2 separate regions of the Homo sapiens genome follow, and region 1 is linked to region 2. A link means that fine-mapping ties the variant in region 2 to the expression of a gene that starts in the linked region. Tissue or cell type: testis. Region 2 holds a variant in brackets; the other region holds the start of a gene. All regions are shown on one strand. Distances are from middle to middle.

Region 1 (5,393 bases), 22 kb after region 2:
AATTTACAATGTTAACTATTTTTAAGTAAACAGTTCAGTATCATTAAATACATTCACATTATTATGCAATCATTACAACTTTTTCATCTTCCCAAATTGAAACTCTACCCATTAAACAATAATTCCCCATTTCCTCCTTCCCCCAGCCCCTGGAAACCACCATTCTACTTTTTGTCCCTATGAATTTGACTACTCTCATATAAGTAGAATCATATAGCGTTTGTCCTTTTGTGACTAGCTTATTTTAGTTAGCACAATATCTTTGATGATCATCCATGTAGTAGCGTGTCAGAATTTTACTGCAAATGTTTTTATTGTGTCAGTTAAACTGTTCTGTGTATACACCTCTAATATACGTATCATATTAATGTATCATACATATTATGAAGCATGCACAACAATAAATATTTTCAAAGAGCAATACTGAAAAACAAACCTATTTTTTTCTTTGCACAATAGATTGTCTGTAAAATCTCCTGGGGTTTATATATTCCCCTCTTTGGGTACTGCTGCTAGCTATAGAAAAATGAAAAGCAATGAGGAGTGTTAAGCAAAGGAGCCATGTAGTTTGACATTCTGACCCAGTTTTTCACTGAGTACCCTAATCCAGGTAAGTACTCTGTAGTTAGTGATGACAAGGAGTTTTCAAAGACTAGATAATTCAGATAATCAGTTTTGTATTTTTAGAGCAGAATATTCTAGTGTTTCTGTGAAGTATGGACCTTATTCAATGCAAGTACATATCTTTCTAATTTCCAAGCACATAGAACATTTTGTTGAGAGGCATAAAATAACACAGCTACTGAAAAATACTTGTTGGTCACTGTTCACTTCAAGATTGCCGATGAATGTATTGGCAGAACTTACAGTTCTCTTGATGCTTGTGAGTATTGTTCAAAAGTTTATTAAAATCAGTTGATTTCTTAAGAGCAAACCATAAAACAGGTACTACTACTAAAAACTAAGGTTAGAACAGGAAAACTGCATGATGGTTGAAAAAGCCCTGACTTTGGAGCCAAGCAAACCTCAGGAAAACTCTGACTTCACCAGTTGCTATTAATAGCTATGTGACCACTGGGAGAATGCTTATACCTCTCTTAACCTCTGTTTTATCATCTATAAATATATGGCAATAACTTATTTGCAAAGTTGCTAAGAGCATGAAATGACGTACTGCACCTAAGTGCCTACTACAGATGTTCAGTTGGTGTTTGTACCTGCTCTTCCATTTAGAAATCCCCAAATACAAAAATTAGTATTATTACCTTGTTCCATGTATGAGGACCAGCATAATCCCTCTGCCTGGAATGGCTTCTGCCCCTAAAAGTCCTAATTGGATTTCAAGATTCAGATTTCAGTGTATTTTCTTTTGGCATTTCAGAGGTGCAATTAAGCTCTTTCTTATCATAGCTCCTATATTGCTTTATTTGTGTCTCTAATAATAATAACCACTTAATATGTGGTGGATGCCATGTTAGCACCCGTTCCCCTTAAAGGAAGGGATAAATTATTATTTCAGCTGCCGGGAGTGCAACCAGCAGATATGCCCTCTTTAGGAATTATCTCAGATGAAAGCACCTCTCAGGCCATGCCTTTTCCCAAGATAGCCACATCCCCAAACGTAAAGTGTGATACAAGGGCCCAGGTCCTTCACAACACTGGAGACAACTCCAAAAAATCATCTGTCTTCAGAACTTCCCTCAGAGTTGGCTAAAGCTTCCAATGAGACCACATCACAGCTCGGCCTCTCCCTGTGCCCAGGCTTATGTCCTTCCCTTTTCTTCCCCAGGTGGTGGTCACAGAATGTTGCCTAATAATTCCCCTCCACCCGAATCTCTATTTCAGAATTTGCAAGTCGGAAACCCAATTTGCAGTATACTTCAGGCCCTTGTTACATTACTGCAATAATTTGTTCACAACCTGTCTCACTCAGTGGGCTGGGTGTGCTTCTGATATTTTAAAAAACATTCTTAGGACCTAGTCATACCTGGCACATACGAATACCTAGCAAATATTTGTTGAATAAATTCATTTAAAAAGAGATCCTATTTTTCTTGGCCAGGAAACTCTTTCTAGTCTCTTCTTTAATTAAATTTATTTATTTATAATCTTTCTTTACAGAAAAAGAATGTAAAGAAATTAACTGAAAGTTAACTACCATTACATAGTGGGTAAGTGAAAATGACAGAATTGTAAAAGCAAGTATGTCATAAGGATCAATATAGTTGTAATTATTCACTGGATATTTTAAAGTCATTCAATAAATAGTCATTGAGCAGAATAACTGTATACCAGGCATTGCTTAAATGCTAAGTCTTTTTCCCCAAGGAGAATTATATTCAAATGACAGCAAAAGCCAAAAATAGAATGAAGTAGTATAATTTCATAGAGTAATAGATGGTATGAAAGCCACTGAGGGGGATCAGAACACACCATCCCTAAATATGCCACTTTGGGATACTGATTATTTTGAGCTGGAGATGCTCAATAGCAGATGCAGGAAGGGCTCTCTGCCTTTTCCTTTTTTACTTAAAAGCAGAGTGTAAATTTACCATGAGAAAAGTGCCCTCCCTGTATCACCAAGAAGGGAATATTCTCATCATCAGAGACAGGGAGTTGACACAGAGATGAATCTACACAAACAAATCTTACAAAAATAACCCTTATCTTCCATTAGCTTCTCCCATGTATTTCCTAGTCACTTTTCCACAATTTCTTTCCCCAACCCTAAACTCTTTTACTTTGGCTTTGTCATATCTCCACAATTTATGACCTTTGTTAAAATGTTATGTAAACCCCTAGGTCTAACTGCTTCTTTGAGGTTTTTACTTCTTTCTTCCTACAAAGCCTCCTACGACACATAAAAATGTTAACCTCAAGTAAAATGTGTATGCTTTTTCTTTTGTTAGTATGTCTTTTGTCTATACAATTCACAGGTCCTAGTCACAGAATTTAAGAGGGTAGAGGAAAGGTATTCCCTTACCTACATCACTTTAGGTCGGATGGTCAGGGAGGGACTCCCAAAAAAGACGAACAGAGACTTCAGTGATAAAAATCTGCTCTTGCAGAGATCTGGGGAAAGAAACTTTTCTATTCTATTCTATTCTATTCTATTCTATTCTATTCTATTCTATTCTATTCTATTCTATTCTATTCTATTCTATTCTATTCTATTCTATTCCATTCTATTCTATTCTATTCTATTCCATTCTATTCTATTCTATTCTATTATTCTACTCTATTTTTGAGACTCCAGGCTGGAGTGCAGTGGCATGATCTCAGCTTACTGTAACTTCTGCCTCCCAGGTTTGAGTGATTCTTGTGCCTCAGCCTCCCAAGTAGCTGGGATTACAGGCATGCACCACCAACCAGCTAATTTTTTGTTTTGTTTTGTTTTGTTTTCTTAGTAGAGACAGGGTCTCACCATGTTGCACAGACTGGTCTCAAACTCCTGGGCTCAAGCGATAGACCCACCTTGGCCACCCAAAGTGCTGGGATTACAGGCATGAGCCACCACACCCTGCCTCTATGGGAAAGAAACTTTTAGACAGACAAAATAGTTAATATAAAGGCCAGGGAACAAAAACAAATTTGACCCTAAGCTCCTAGCAGCTAAATATAGTAAATTGCTTGTTTTTATCTGGGAGGGGATGTGTTTTTATTCTTAAGGAGAGTCAGCTTTCCATTGAATAAAATCTGAGAGAGGTAAACAATGTCTTCATCAACCATTTCACAACAAACACAGAAGGAGAAATCTGTGATGGCTTTTTGTAGTGACACTGGAGACCTAACATTAAGAAGCATTCAGGAAAAACAGTTTCTGTGAAGTGCTATAATGACTCACAATACTTAGAGTAGTAGCTAGATGACATGACCTTTAAGTTTTCTTCTTTAAGTAAGAATTGTATGTCAGTCTAAGATTGCATCCTCTATCGAGGGCTTCAGTGCAGGTATCTTAGACTATTCATTTATTCTCTGATTCATTAATCAAGAAAAACATTGTTCAGAAAACCTTGGACAAAGTCTTAAATCATAGCACTCTGTGTTCCTGCTGCATTTAAGTTATGACTCACAATTTAAGCTGACTTCATACAATTCTACTGAAATATCACCTATCCAGATAAAAAGTTGCTTGTTTCCCACACATAATTCCATTCTTTTCATTTGCAAATGTATTCCCTCCTCTCATTGCTGTAGAATAGGACTCTCAGTTATTCTGATATATATTAAGTTTTATTGAGATGCAAATAAATGACAACAGGCATAAAATTAAAGAAAGATGAGTTTCAGTGTCAAGATACGCAATGAAGCAGGAAATGGAGATCATTAAGCTATTACTATAAGACAGTTTTGCTTAACCTACCTTTGTAATTTTGTTCCCCGACAACTAAACAAAAAAAGTATTTATTAAACAGTGACAGTCTGGCAGGGACATGCCACTATAAGTCAAAAGAAAGAAAATATATTCCAAAGTGAAAAACAGCAAGTTAAGCTTTATTATGGTAGCAGAGAAATGTCATCACATTACAAAACATGTGCTGCAACCATCAAATGGCTTTGACTTCTTAGTAAATCATATGTATAAAATACCTACTGAGTCAACTAGTTAAATTCATTCCATTTTGCAAATATTTCAAGCATGTGACATCTCAAACCCAAGGCCTACCACCTATTTTTCTCAATGATAAAATCAGAACTGAACAGAAGAGAAGTTGGGATTCAGTAACAGTGTGTGTGACAGCATCTGGCTAGCATAGCTCCTAGCAGATAACATAACACTAATACTCAATCTCTTCCTTCCCTCCCCTTCCCTCTTACTTTCACAACCTAGTATAGAAGAAGGGTTATATCCTGAAATAGATTACAGTCAAAAACCACACATAGCTGCCTCCTTTGTGGGACCTGGAGCAAGGATACAGATGGAGGCCAGCATACCAGATCTACATATTTAAAAGTTATAAATGAAGCTGGCAAACTATTAAATAAAATGTGATATTTCCTTCTGTCTTGATAAATATATTTTATAACAATCTGAAAGGCCAACTTCTAATTTAGATTTCTCATATCCCTCAGAGTTTTATGCCAAAATTTGGCAGGGGACCATGGGACACACGCACTCCTACCTAATCTTGAGGCTTGAATCCCTACTCTTCTCTCTACCAGCTTTCCCACCCAGAGGAACCTGGTAGACATGATCTGAACACTCCAGCATGATCAAGCTCCAGAAACACCCCCATCATCAATTGTGCCTTAGGCCTAAGAGCATGCACACCAGCAACCACAGTCTGCCCTTGAGAGCATGGGATAAGAAGCGGTCCAAGCAAATGTTGGAGCCAGTACTGAGGCCTGTTGAACAGAAAATTCCACAGTCTCAGAAACAGTCTAGAAGTGAA
Region 2 (5,393 bases):
TAAGAGAGCTGACAAACCAGTATGGACACTGCCCAATTATCACTTAATGTTTCCTTGAAAATAAAAATGATGCTGATGAAAAACTGCTCTGACATTGCTTTTCCAGGTTCTAAACCTTCTATGCCTTATAAAATTAATCTATGAATTATTTGGGATCCTAGCAAGGAGAAGGAAGTTTTTCCTGATCGTCGACAAAGGAATATCCCTAAAACATGCATTTGGGTTCCTTTTAGTTCTAAATTCCAGGACTCAATCACAATGTTAACTTAACCTGCTTCACAGACGTTTCAGTTGCTGCACTTTAAAATGTACTACATCAGATTTTGTCAATTAAAAAATGCTTAGGTTTTCCAATACTGCTCAACAACTTGTTGAGAACAAATTTGTGGGGGCAAGGTGGGTGAAATAAAGTGTCAGTGAAAATACTCAACTTCTCCCTCAGGTGTAAAAATCTCTCAGAGAATTTACAGTTGAGCAACCTTATGAGATATCTTTGTTTGCTCTTTTGACTCAAGTTTATTGTAGGAACAAAAACTTCACTTGCATCATTTTATGGTCAGGTTTCTAAACACTTTCTATGTTTGCATTTCTTAAACCAACAAACTCTGCAATGCATTGTGGACACATTTTGTTTTTGTAAGATCTTTCTCTGCATTTAAACATTTTATCTTTTAGTTATACTTAGCTTTTATATATAAAAGTATTTGGAACTCAACAATATTGCCAACACATATCGCCCAAATCAGCAGTCAGCTATAGCCCGTCTTTTATTTCTGGATGAAGCAACCGAGGGGGCCTGGCGCAGTGGCTCATGCCTGTAATCCCAACACTTTGGGAGGCCGAGGTGGGTGGATCACCTGAGGTTAGGAGTTTCATACCGGCCTGACCAACATGGAGAAACGCCATCTCTACTAAAAATACAACATTAGCCGGGTGTGGTGGCACATGCCTGTAATCCCAGCTACTTGGGAGGCTAAGGCAGGAGAATCACTTGAACCCACCAGGCGGAGATTGCAGTGAGCCGAGATAGTGCCATTGCACTTCAGCCTGGGTGACAGAAGGAGACTCCATCTCAAAAAAAAAAAAAAAAAAAAAAAGCAACGGAGGGGCTATTTAGGAAAGAAGGAAAAATTGTTTTAAGAATAAATGTTTCCCAATAGTTTGCATATAATAAAATACAATGTCAAAGCCAAAGTGAAACTAAGGTTAAAAGGATATTCAGATTGCTATAACAGAAATATGCAGCTGTATATTAAAGCAGTACCATGTAATTGACTTCACTCTGTATTTCTTTCACACTCAAGCTTTATTTTTCCAGTGGTGATGTGAATTTTTACTATTCTAGCCACAAAATTCATTAATAATATATGTGGAGATTCCTGGCCAAGGAAGTTTATATAAAAAGAGGTTGTTGCAGTTTGGGAAAAGGATAATCTGACTTGAGATCAGCTCTGCCACTCAGCTGTGAGAACACAGTAGACTAATAACTAATAGTTATCCTCACAGAGCCTTGGTTTCCTTACCTGTAAACTATGCATGAAAACCATCACAGTGTGATCATGAAGACTGAATTAAATGAGCAGCTCCATGTGGAAGCTCCTTGAGATCTTTAAAACAATACAAATGTTAACTATTTCTGTGGGAATGGGAAAAATAGGGTTACTTTCTCTACAGTCTCAAACTCTTCCACCATCTAGAGCAAACAATTATCCCATTATTTTGTGGTTACCAACTTGTCAAGAAAAATGCATGACTCTAAAGTGGGTGGACAGCTAGTTCAGTTGGAAGAGGAAGAGGAAAAAAAATAGGGATGCTGCTTTCGGAGGAAAGTCAGAACAAAGCTGGGGTTTAGAATCCTGAGCAGTTTATCTGGCTTGGGTATATGCGTGGGGAGAACCTCGATCTCTTAGAGAAGTGCAACAGCACCCAAAGGCAAAGGGGTGTTGGGGGAGGACTGAAGACAATCTTCACTGATAGCCACGTTTTGCTTAGAATTTATCCTATCCTGTTTTTCCTTTCTTCTTGCTTTTGCTACTACTACTGCCATTTTGGGGTGGATTTAAGGAGAGGTAATTTCTTTCTTTCTTTCTTTGTAAATTATAAAATAATATGTAATTGTAATATCTATCTAAGTTATATATAGATAGACATAGAAATAGCTATAGCTATAGATAGATAGACATAGATACAGATAGAGAGAGAGATGTAGATATAGTAGAGGTTTAAGTGCATAGCCTTGGGAGCCAGACTGCCTGGGTTCAAACTCCACCACTACCATTTATTAGATCTATTACCTCAGACAAGTTACTTAGCTCTTCCTGTATCAAT[T/A]TTCTCATCTGTAAGTTAAGGATAACGTTAGTAAAGCCTTATAAAGTGATTTCGAAGATTAAATTAGTTAATGTCTGTAAAACACTTGTAACAGTGCCTGGCATTATACTGGATATCTTGAAAATGTTTTATTATTATTAGATGCAATCCCTATTTATTAATTGTAATATTATTTTTACTGTATTATTGGTTGTATTCTAGTGTAGTGTATAGGCTTCTCAAAATATCTCCATGCACATACAAATACACATATTTACAGAAGTTCAGTTTTTTGTTTTATTTTTTAACAGTAACAAGCTCATATACATATTCTTCTGCAACTTGCTTTTGCAACTATAACAGTATATAGTGGGGATCTTTTTTGTAACAACAGCATAATTGTGTCAGACACTGCTGTTGTCTGCACAGTATCTATTCTCCTATTTGTTTTTCATGAACTGAACCATAAATAGATAAAAATATTTATTTATTGGGCAATTTTTAAATCAAGAGTGGGAAAAGGGAACATACTCAGGAAACATATCCAGATAAAGGATCAGAAAAGGAAACACACTAAGTAAAAATAATGCTCCAAAGAAAGAGACATCAATAAAATGATTTGTCTCAGCCTTGGTGGTGATCAATAGAAAAAAAAATAGCATCCCTTAACAATTCAAGGACACTAACTGGCTCTCATATGGATTTGAGATCTGAAATTATTGAATGCTTAACAAATAAATAGTAAGGGCTTACTATGAGCCCAAAATCATCTTAGGCTCTGGGGATACAGCAATAAAAAAAAAATTCCTTTCCTTATGGAACTTTACTTCTAGTTGGGGAAGAAGAACATAAATAATTTAAACAAGTTATTTAGTATACTAAAAGGTGATAAGTGATATAGAGAAAAATAATGCTATGAAAGCTGCTAGGAAGAGCTTAAAACGTGTGCAATTTTAAATAAGATGGCAGGAAAGGCCTGAAATAGAGTTGAAAGGTGAGAGAGTCATGCAGATATCTGGGAGAGGTGGTTTTTAGCAGATGAACTGGTCAGTGGAAAACCTTAAGGTGAGCGTGTGCATGGCCTATTTAAGGAACAGGAAGCAGAGCAATGTGTGGCCAGGTAGGAGGACGCTGGGGAGAGGATAAGAGATTTGGTGGACAGGACAGCTTGGGAGAGATTGTGGAGACTTCTAAGTATTTTAAACATTTAAACATTTTTGTGATATTGCAGAAAAGCTAAAGACATTAATGAACTTTAGATGTTTTTAAATTAAGGATATATGTTAAAATTTCAAGGCCAACCATTAAAATAAAATAGCATGTAAAATTTCAAAACCAGTAGAGGAGAGAAAGCAGTTCAAATGAAGAAAGGAGAAAACCGAAAGAGAAAAACAAATATAAGGCAGTCGATTCAAATCTATGTGTAATCATAACTCAAGTGACCATATTATCAAACTGTATTCAAAAAACAACAACTATATGCCATTTATAGTAGAGAACATAAGCACACAAGAAGATGAAAGTACAAAAATATATACTGAGCAAATACTAATTAAAGGAAGGGTGAGATATAGCTATTTTACACAGATAAAATAGACTTTAAGGCAAAAATAAAAGTGGGCACTATATAGTGATAAAGTGTCCCATTCATTAGGAAGATATGAAAATTCTAATTCTGTATGTACTAAATAACATGATTTCAAAACATGTGAAGCAAAAAGTGAAAGAGTTGAAGGTAGAATTTGACAAATCAGTCTTAATAGTGATATTTTAAACATAACTGTCAGTAACTGATAGACTGTTAGGACAGAAAATATTTACTCCAATAATTAGAGATTACATAGTATTTTTAAGGACACTTGAAGAAATACATTATAAATTAAGTTATAACATTTCAAAGAATTAGTAAATTGAGAACCACAACTACCATGAAATTAATGTAGAAATAAATAACAAAAATAAAATGTTAGGACTCATTTGTTTTGGAATTAATAGAGAACCAAAACCTACAAAATAACTGATGGGTCACAGAAGAAATGACTAAAGTGAATAGAAGATATCTGTTATAAGGATAAGAAAAATATTACAAATTAAAACATGTGGAATGTAGGTAAAGCACTGCTTACAGAAAATTTATAGGCTTAAATTCATATACAAGAAAAGAAGCAAGAGTGAAAATGATTTGACTCTTAACTAAATAAGTAAAAAAAAAAAAATACAATAAGCCAAAAGAAAATAGAATAAAGGAAATTAAGAACAAAGCTTAATGAAATTGAATAGAAACTCAAGTCAGGCTTCAACTGTTCCTTGCAGCTACATTGCAAGGAATACGAGATTTTTTTTTTTTTTTTTGAGACGGAGTCTAGCTCTGTCGCCCAGGCTGGAGTGCAGTGGCATGATTTTGGCTCACTGTAACCTCCACCTCCTTGGTTCAAGTGATTCTCCTGCCTCAGCCTCCTGAGTAGCTGGGATTACAGGCGCCCGCCACCACACCCAGCCAATTTTTTGTATTTTTAGTAGAGACGGGGTTTCACTGGGTTGGCCAGGCTGGTCTCGAGCTCCTGACCTCGTGATCCACCCACCTCGGCCTCCCAAAGTGCTGGGATTACAAGCGTGAGCCACCACACCCGGCCATAGGAATACGAGATTTTAAGAAATCCTAAAACACACACGGAAACACGATACCATGAGTCAGATGCAGAAAATAAAATTGATAGCATAATTATATCCACAAAGTCTTAAGTTACTGAAATTATTAGAGATATAAAAAGGGTACTTAATAGGTTTAAAAAACAAGTAATGGTTTGAAATTATAAGCAAGAAACAAGAGAATATAAAAATGATCAAGTGGATTTTAAAAGATAATACAGAATCTTAAAATAAAAGCTCATAATAATTAAAATTTAATTATTTTGTTTAATCAATAAATGGCTAAGTTGAATAAATAGTTGAGTTGTATAATGAACTAAATAGTAAATTATACAAAGTTAAAGAGATTAATGAACAAGCCAAGAAAATTTTATAGAATGCAATAGACATGTAAAATATGTGAGAGAGGTTAGGAGATGTTGAGGATTGAATAAGAA

Alleles and levels. Alleles are on the strand shown, and positions count from the first base shown. SD is a standard deviation of normalised expression in the study named.
With allele T in place of A in region 2, the expression in testis of the gene that starts at base 3,040 in region 1 is lower (large effect, 0.89 SD a copy in GTEx).

What was found. PIP is the estimated chance that this variant, and not a neighbour inherited with it, causes the effect.
Region 1: ARHGEF38-IT1 starts here. The variant in region 2 is the best candidate, but not a certain one, in a credible set for the expression of ARHGEF38-IT1 in testis (GTEx, PIP 0.57).

The regions. Positions count from the first base shown.
Region 1 is chr4:105,559,238-105,564,630 of GRCh38, reverse strand. It overlaps ARHGEF38-IT1 (ARHGEF38 intronic transcript 1), which reads right to left and starts at 3,040. Exons shown (of 3, transcript NR_046840.1): 1 at 2,984-3,040; 2 at 1,266-1,329. All of the region lies in intron 1 of ARHGEF38 (Rho guanine nucleotide exchange factor 38), which reads right to left.
Region 2 is chr4:105,581,431-105,586,823 of GRCh38, reverse strand. The region is part of intron 1 of ARHGEF38 (Rho guanine nucleotide exchange factor 38); the gene reads right to left. Among named protein-coding and RNA genes, the nearest start is that of ARHGEF38-IT1, 23 kb to the right of the region's middle. The variant T/A (reference allele first, on the strand shown) is at 2,329.